Linked DNA regions of Homo sapiens: region 2 is linked to region 1. The links come from fine-mapping of genetic effects on gene expression. Tissue or cell type: whole blood. Region 1 holds a variant in brackets; the other region holds the start of a gene. All regions are shown on one strand. Distances are between the middles of the regions. Region 1 overlaps LINC02608 (long intergenic non-protein coding RNA 2608). Region 2 holds the start of PPP2R5A (protein phosphatase 2 regulatory subunit B'alpha).

The links.
Region 2: it holds the start of PPP2R5A, and the variant in region 1 is fine-mapped to the expression of PPP2R5A in whole blood (TOPMed, PIP 0.98).

What each region holds. Positions count from the first base shown.
Region 1 is chr1:212,253,467-212,257,849 of GRCh38, forward strand. The region is part of intron 1 of LINC02608 (long intergenic non-protein coding RNA 2608); the gene reads right to left. Among named protein-coding and RNA genes, the nearest start is that of LINC02608, 29 kb to the right of the region's middle. RefSeq lists enhancers at 2,711-3,212, 2,826-3,005. The variant A/T (reference allele first, on the strand shown) is at 2,596.
Region 2 is chr1:212,283,240-212,287,622 of GRCh38, forward strand. PPP2R5A (protein phosphatase 2 regulatory subunit B'alpha) reads left to right here and starts at 2,171. Exons shown (of 13, transcript NM_006243.4): 1 at 2,171-3,052. The coding sequence starts at 2,872. LINC02608 (long intergenic non-protein coding RNA 2608) reads right to left here and starts at 1,782. Exons shown (of 4, transcript NR_125984.1): 1 at 1,740-1,782. RefSeq lists an enhancer at 1,684-1,763 and a silencer at 1,934-2,903.

The DNA of each region.
Region 1 (4,383 bases):
GAGGCAGGTGGATCACTTCAGGTCAGAAGTTCAAGACCAGCCTGGCCAACATAGAGAAACCCTGTTTCTACTAAAAATATAAAAATTAGCTGGGCTAGGTGGTGTGCACCTGTAATCCCAGCCACTCTGGAGGCTGAGGCAGGAGAATTGCTTGAGCCTGGGAGGCGGAGGCTGCAGTGAGCCGAGATCACGCCACTGCACTCCAGCCTGGGTGACAGAACGAAATCATCTCAAAAAAAAAAAAAACAAAAAAAACCATATCTACAAAAAATACAAAAATTAGCCAGGCATGGTGGTGCATGTCTGTAGTCCAGCTACTCAGGAGGCTGAGGTGGGAGGATCGCTTGAGCCTGGGAGGTTCAGGTTGCAGTGAGCAGTGATTGTGCCACTGCACTCCAGCCTGGGTGACAGAACGAAATCATCTCAAAAAAAAAAAAAAAAAAGATTGAAAAGAGACCTCACAGACATAACCAAGTACAATCCTCCCAAAGTGCTGAGATTACAGGTGTGAGCCACCATGCCCGGGATTACAGGCGCCTGCCACCATACCCGGCTAATTTTTGTATTTTTAGTAGAGACAGGGTTTTGCCATGTTGGCCAGGCTGGTCTGGAGCTCCTGACCTCAGGTGATCTGCCTGCCTTGGCTTCCCAAAGTGCTGGGATTACAGGCATGAGCCACCGCACCTGGTTCTGAAAATGAACTTTTAAAAAGAACAATTTGGGAAACTTCAATATAGACTGTAGATAAGAAGGAATTATCAATTTTTGGCATTGTGGTGATAGAAGAAAATACCCTTTCTAAGATGCATGCTAAAGTATTTGGGAGTAAGTTGACATAACACCTATAATTTGCTTTAAAATGCTTCAGCAGGCTGGGCGCGGTGGCTCACGCCTGTAATCTCAGCATTTTGGGAGGCCGAGGCGGGTGGATCACAAGGTCAGGCAAGTTCAAGACCAGCCTGGCCAACATGGTGAAACCCCATCTCTACTAAAAATACAAAAATCAGCTGGGCATGGTGGCACATTCCTGTAATCCCAGCTACTCGGGAGGCTGAGGCAGGAGAATTGCTTGAACTGGGACCCAGGAGGCAGAGGTTGCAGTGAGCCAAGATCGTGCCACTGCACTCCAGCCTGGGGTACAGTGAGACTCTGTCTCAAAAAAAGAGAAAGAAAAAAAACTTCAGCCAAAAAGCAAAAAGGTGGGGAGGTAAAGGGAGGATAGATTAAATACGTATGGCAAACTTGATGGCTATTGAAACTGGTTGATGGGGTCATAGGGGTTTTTATGTAAGTCTGAAAATTTTTATAATAAAAGTGGTTTGTTTGTTTTTTATTTTTTTTTTAACACACTTGCACATCATCTGTAGCTTGTCTGTTTTTTAATGAATGGCGTAGACACTGATGGTGGAGTTCAGACGAGGGTGTAGTAGCAAAGACTAGAACCACTACAGAAAGATTTGCGGGGGAGATGGAAGTGTGCATTTCCTTCCTCCCTTCCTCCCTCCCTCCCTCTCTCCCTTCCTGTGTTACCATCTCCCATACCAGGTAGGGTGCGGTATTAAAACAGCATGGCAGGAGTGTGGGTATCTTTTGGGGAGGTGGGAGATTGCCTGGGGAAGTTGGTGGCCAGAATGGAGAGGAATGTGGGGAATGCCAGGCTGGGCACCCGGCTGGACCTTGTACTGAAGCCAGTGATGAGGCTTCTGTGCAAAGAGAGTGATGCAACCTGTGTTCCAGGCAGATTAATGTGGATAATGCTGGCGTGAGTCCGAGAGGTCTGGTAAGGGGCTGTTACCCAGGTCCAGGCATGAGGAAGGGATAAAAGCTTGCATTGTACAGAAGTGACAGTGACAAGAGACATTTCAGATGAATCAAGAATCAGCAGAATCTGCTGGTGACCATTTATGAAGCTAGTATGGGTGAGGCAAAGTAGTACTTGAACAATGGGATAAATGGCTGTCCTGTTTAATGGAAATAAGGAAACTGAGATGATTTGGGAGATGAGGATTAGGGGTTGATTTTGAACGTGCAAAATGGGTGGAAACAGAACAACCAAGCTGAGATATTTCAAACAACAGATTGTTCCAAACAATAGGCTATTTCAGGGGTGAGATGAGGAGACTCAGAATCAAATAGATCCACTGGGATGAAATCGTTCACCCCGGCCCCTTTCCCATATAAAACCTGATTGAAGTTTGAGGATGAAGGTCTGAAAATGAATCTGGGAAAGTGAGTGGTCTAGCCAAGATGGAACTATGGGGGAGGGTGAGGAGACAAGTTGGTGTCTCCACAGGTGCTGAAGAAACCTCGCTTTTGACATCCTGCTCTCCTGTGACTTTGCTTCCTGTTGTGATAGGAGAACCTGCCCAGTGTTCCATGGGGCATGGCTCTAGAGTCATTCTGTTTACACCGAGCTGCCTCTCGGTTGGATAACTGTGTGGCTGAAGAACGACACGGAGCATTAAGCTAGGCCCCCGAGAGTGGGGACCAGCTCTATTTCCCCTGTCCCAAGTACACAGGATATAACGTGCCCTCCCTGGAGATGTCCACAGGGTGCTGCTGACCTCCCAGGTCCCTGCCTCACAGAACAGGGGG[A/T]TTCTCTTCCTGTCATGACTATTTAGTTACTGGGCTAACAAACAAGAAAAAGTCACATGGGGCAGGATTTCAAGAGCAGAGTTACTTCAGTTGCCTGTGGAAATAACACCAGGTTGTGCAAGAAGACTTTTAGGCTGAAAAAGGCATGTTAAATCTTGGTCTGATGGTCTGACCATCTGAAAAACACAGCCCGTTTTTTCTTTTTTGGAGCTGCAGATAGGACAATGATGAGACCGTACCTCTCTCATGCCCCACAAAAGACACAAAAAGAGAGAGGCCTGAGTTTTGTGATACCCGAGAAGATTTGCATTGGTTTATCTGAGTCCTCATTTTCAGCAAATGACAGCAAGAGGCCAATAAGACACAAAGGGATTTTTTTTTTCTTTTTTTGCTCAACTGCCTTCCTTCCTGCTAAAAATCTCTCAAGCTCTGCCCATCCCTCTTCTTTACCCCACCCTGTCCCTACCACAAACCCACTTCCTCCTCAAAGTCCCAGCCCTCCCACTAGCACACTCTTTCTCCCCTGCCCCTTCTGCTCCCCTCCCATGGCTGCTAGCTCAGGGGTCATGCCCAGGCAGCCTGATGCAGGCCAGGATTCTCACTTCACTCAGCAGCCCCCAACAAAGCTGGCACTGTCTAACTGGGTCACCTTGGGAGAAGGCAGGCAGGAGTGACTGGGGTTGTGTCCTGAGAGCACGGCCAACATGGCCCTGTCTTGTTGTAATCACTTTCAATATGGCTTCTTATTATCACTATTTACAATATTATGAATGTATGAAGAAGAGCTACCACCAAGTGAGTACCTACTGTCTTCCAAGCATAGTGCTCCACACATTACATGCCTTTTCTCCTTTAATCACCCCGCAAACACATGAAGTAGCAGCTATCACAATACCCTTTTTAAACATGAGGAAATAAGGTTTAGAGAGGTTAAGCAACTTGCCCAAGACCAGGTAGCACCAAGCGGCAGCACTGGGATGCAGATTCAGATGTGCCTAGTTCCCAGCCCCCTCCTCTTAACCATCTTGACATAGGCTTGAGTGGCATTTATCTTGACTTATTCCCACCTAATGAAGTAGGAAGACCATTCAAACAGGAAGCCATCTGGGGTGAGGGGAAGCTGGTCACTGGGGATCTGGGGTCAGACTGCCCAGAAACCATGGGGATCTAGAAATGGTCATCTGCAGAGTAGCCTGCTCTTTCTCAAGGGAGTTGTGGCCAAGCTCTATCTTTGCCAGGCCTCTGGGCTAATATCCTAGTTGGTTTAGTGGTAATAGGGCCAAGGTCACGAATCTGATTCCTTTGTGGGCCAGTGAACTTCCATCCACTCCAGTGTCACAGGCAGCACTCCTAACTTTGACCAACGGTTCTCAACTTCAGACCATTGGATGAGAATAAAAATGGTTTAGGCCGGGCGTGGTGGCTCATGCCTGCAATCCCAGCCTTTGGGAGGCTGAGATAGGGGGAATGCATGAGCCCAGGAGTTTGAGACCAGCCTGGGCAACATAGTGAGACTCCATCTCTGCAAAAAATACTTTTAAAAACAATTAGCTGGGGATGGTGGTGTGCACCTATAGTCCCAGCTACTCAGGAGACCGAGGTAGGAAGATCACTTGCGCCTAGGAGGTCGAGGCTGCAGTGAGCCAAGATTGTGCCACTGCACTCCAGCCTGGGTGACAGAACAAGACCCTGTCTCAAAACAACAACAACAAAAAAATGGTTTAACACAACTCTTTAATTTTTTTAAATAAATAACCCATAAAAGCATGTACTCTGCAGATGGATGGG
Region 2 (4,383 bases), 30 kb after region 1:
TAAATGCAATAGGAATACAAAGAAGGGAGGCATCACTTCTGGCTGGATTGTCAAGCTTCATAAAAGATAGGGGGTTTGAAGAAAAGAAATTTCAAAAAGATGAAAAAAAAATGGGCCGGGCGCGGTGGCTCACGCCTGTAATCCCAGCGCTTTGGGAGGCGGAGGTGGCCGAATCACGAGGTCAGGAGTTCGAGACAAGCCTGGGCAACATGGTGAAACCCCGTCGCTACTAAAAATACAAAAAATTAGCCGGGCGTGGTGGCAGGTGCCTGTAATCCCAGCTACTCGGGAGGCTGAGGCAGGAGAATCGCTTGAACCCGGGAGGCGGAGCATGCAGTGAGCCGAGATTGTGCCACCATTGCACTCCAGCCTGGGTGACAGAGCAAGACTCCGTCTCAAAAAAGAAAAAAAAAAGTGGATTATTTCAAGATGTTGGAACAGCAAAGACTAAGTGTTGAGGATGCATAACTTCTTTTAGGGGATCAGTATGTGGAATGATGTGCCTGAACTAAAAAGAGTTTTTGTGGGCACATGTAGGAATTTACACTTGGAAAGACAGGAGTCAGATCGCAGAGAGTCTTGAATTTGGACTCTATTCTGCAGGTATTGGGTGGTTCCTCAAACACGCAGGTAAGATAAAAGTGATCTTAAAAGATTGATGTGGCAGTGAGTTTGAAAGCCGTGAACTACGTTTGGCGGTCTTTGTACACATTGGGAGAAACGCCAATTGTGAAAGTAGATTTAACATGATCTGGAGCTTGACTATGTGAGAAAGCGAAAAGTGTCAGAAACGCTGCTGAGGTTTGAACCTCCTTGACTGGGAGGATTATGTACAATTTCACCGCCCAGCAAATCTGAAGGAGGAAATGTTTTGAGGATAGTATGTTTGGTTCTAGGTCTAGAATTCAACTTCCTGCCAAATTTGGAATCTTCTGTACATATGCATCAGGTGGCTTCGTTTAAATATACGACAATTACTTTTATTATGTTGAAAGGAAAAGGTCTGGAGCTCGAGGGAGGGGATTACAGATTTGGGTCCATTGGCGCAAAGGGAGGCTGACTGTTCAGATTAATAATTATTAACGGCCACCGTATGGAAAGCACTGCACGAAAAACTAAGATGACCAGTCCTCGTCCTTAAGAAATTCAAAATCTAGACGGAATCTCCAAGAAAGAGATTCCGGTAAGAGTACATGGCAAGCCTCCATATCCACACACCACTGACCAATGAATTTGTACTCTTCTCGTTGGAGTAGTTGAGGGCCTTTGGCTCAAGGAGGGGTGAAAATTAGCAGGATACTAAATTGGGAATGAGAAATCTCTTTTTAGAGGGCGTGGACTTGCAGAACTCTTTGAAGCAGCAGATGCTAGACTGCCCAAACCCCACGCGAGAGTAGCTCTCTGGAGTTGCGGAGTCCGAACCTCCCAAGAGCTACAAATTTATTCCGCAACTACCAATTTTGCGGTTTGGGGCCAGTAAGGCGCCAAGACCCGCCCAGGTGTCCAGACCTCGCAACGATTGGACGAGCTCACCTTCTCGCCTTCCCCGGGCCCCTCGCCCGTCAATCACACTGCTTGCTCGCCACCTGACCTCTGCTGCGCCCCCTTTCAGTGGTGTAACACCTGGCGCTCTTTCGCGCCCCAGCCCTCCGGCGCCCCACCAATCGCTTCAGTTCTTCATTGGCCAGCAGAGAGGTGAGGGAAGGGAAGGGGCGCTCTATTTTGCTCTCTGAACGCACCCTCTCAAGTTTCCCAGTCTTCTCGTAGACGGTCAGGAGAGCAATGACAGCCTGGAGCAGTCGCGCGTGAGCGCAAAAATGCCCGCTGGTGGAGGAGCGCTTCCCCTCCCTCCCAAGCGATTTGCCGCATTTGTTCTGACGCAGGGGCACCCCGCTCGCCGTCTTCACTTACGATTGGCTGTGGCCGAAGCCCGTCACACAGCCCGCCCCACTCCTCTGCCTCAAGAGGCCGCACCTCACGCCGTCGCTGCCGCTTAGCCGTGTGATTGGCTAAGAGGGCTGGCATGCTTTCCCGCCCCCTCCCCCGCCGCCGCACCAAGAGGCGGGCGGGACCCCGCGGAAGTTGTCAGTCAAACTCCTCCTTCCCACCCCTTGCGAGGCCCCTCCCCGGGCCGCGCGCCCTGGCGCGCGCACACGCGCACACACTCCCCAGTCGCCTGTACCAACCACCTTCTCAAGTTGTAGCGGTCGCTCGCCTGGGGTTCTCCGTGGGCGGCCGACGGGCGCGTGGGGGAGGGGGTTCGGGCCGCCCAGCGCGGCAAGGAGCGAGTGTGTGCACGCAGAGGGCCGGGGCTACGGGGCAGCGCCCCGGGCGATGAGGGGCCGGCGTTGACCGGGAAGAGCGGGCACCGCGGCAGTGGCTCCGAGGGGACCCGCGATGGCAGCGCCCTGAGAGGAGGCTCCAGGCAGGGCGGGCTGCGCTGGCAGCGGCCGCTGAGGTGCTGGCCGGCCGGCTGGCTGGCGACGGGGGCAGAAGCGACGAGAGGCGCGCTCGGCACCCGCACCCCCGTGCCCCCGCCTCAGTTGTCTAAACTTCGGGCTCTCTTCCACCCGCTCTGCGCGCCCAGAGTCAACAACTTCTTCACCCCCCTCCGCCCCCGCCCTTCCCTCCGTCAGCCCCGGGAGCTCGCCGCGCGCCGGGGACCAGGAACCTCCAGCGCTGAGATGTGGCCGTGAGGCGTTGGCGGGCGGCGAGGAGAAGCTCGGCGGCGTCCCGGGGCCGGAGGGCCGTGGGGCCGGGGCGCAGGGGCGCGAGCACCCCGCGCCTCTCCCCCGCCTCCTCCTGCCGTCTCCGCCGCTGCCCGTGCCTTGCAAGCAGCAGCCGGAGCTGCCAAGCGTCAGGGCCGCGGAGATGTCGTCGTCGTCGCCGCCGGCGGGGGCTGCCAGCGCCGCCATCTCGGCCTCGGAGAAAGTGGACGGCTTCACCCGGAAATCGGTCCGCAAGGCGCAGAGGCAGAAGCGCTCCCAGGGCTCGTCGCAGTTTCGCAGCCAGGGCAGCCAGGCAGAGCTGCACCCGCTGCCCCAGCTCAAAGGTAACCTCCGAGGGCGCAGCCCCAGCAGCGAGCGCAGGGGCTGGCAACGCTTGCCTCTGCGCCAGCAGAGCCATTTCCTGCTGGGTTTCTCCTGCTCAGTTGGGACTGGTAGTGTGTGAGCCGAGTTCCCCACAATGCCTTGGCGTCACCTCACGCCCTCCTCCTTATTCAAACAGGTTTTCTGTGAAGTCTTGGCTGTTTCCTTCTAATTCCCACCTGAACTCTTTCCATCCTAGGGGAGGCCAACACCCTTCCCCACCTGCGCGCTTGCTTAACCTGCACTTCCTATCTTGCGTCCCGTGAAGTAGAGTCCTTCACTCCTCTTCCAGGTTTGCCCTTTCCCGGTCTTGCTTTAACAACCGCACGAACCTTCCCCGACCTTCACTTTCCCGAGTGTCAGCTCCTCTGTTCGGCCACTTTTAGCTAGTCCTTTACTTTTACAGTTATAAAGCCGTCTGCACCCACCTTCTTCTCAACTTCACTTCCCATTGATTGCCCCTAAGAGTCATCAGACCAGGAATCCGAATGCAAACAACGGTTAAGAGTTAGCTGGCCTTTGGATGTATTTATAAAGAAAAAGCCTAAAATTTGACCAGTGTAGTATCTTATTCACAGGATCGTTAGCTTTAAATGGTATCCTTTAGCTCAAGGAATAGATTTAAAATATTCTGTTGTCTGAGCCGATACACATGGTCTATTTGGAAATACGAAGGAGTAGGTAGTGTTGCTTTGCAGTCGAATGGGAACTTAGTTTGCCAGGCAGTGATTCCAGGGACTTTGTAGGTTTGTACAGGAATTCAAATTGGTATCCGTGCCTAATGCCTTGCAGGAGAACTTGGCACTCTTTTTGGCTCACTTTTCCCACTAGGTTTAGAGGATTTTCGATGTTATTTCCTGGTGTTCTAGTTTATTCTTTGTGTATTACTCATGCTTAATTTTATAATTTTAATGTCCTTGCTTTTTATGAGATAGAAATGTTGGAACAAGATGATAATGCTCCTACATATTTAGATAAAATTTGCAACCTGACGGAAATCCCTATCATCTGATGTTCAGATTTTTCAATTCATTTGAAAAAGCTGCAGCATCCCCTTCAAGGCCAGTCTGGTTCTCATTTGTCTTTGGGCCTGTGAATCCAGCCTTAGTTTGGCAAGGAGTCTAAAGAAAACCCCAGATCAAATCACAGTTGACCTACAACAGCTCCAGAACCCTATTGAGACCCTACCTTGCCCTGACTCTTGGAGTGCTTCTAAATCATGACATCTCACAGTTAGAATCAAACTGGCTTTTGAACAGAGATTTTGAGATATTAGTCTGTGCTATCGAATTTA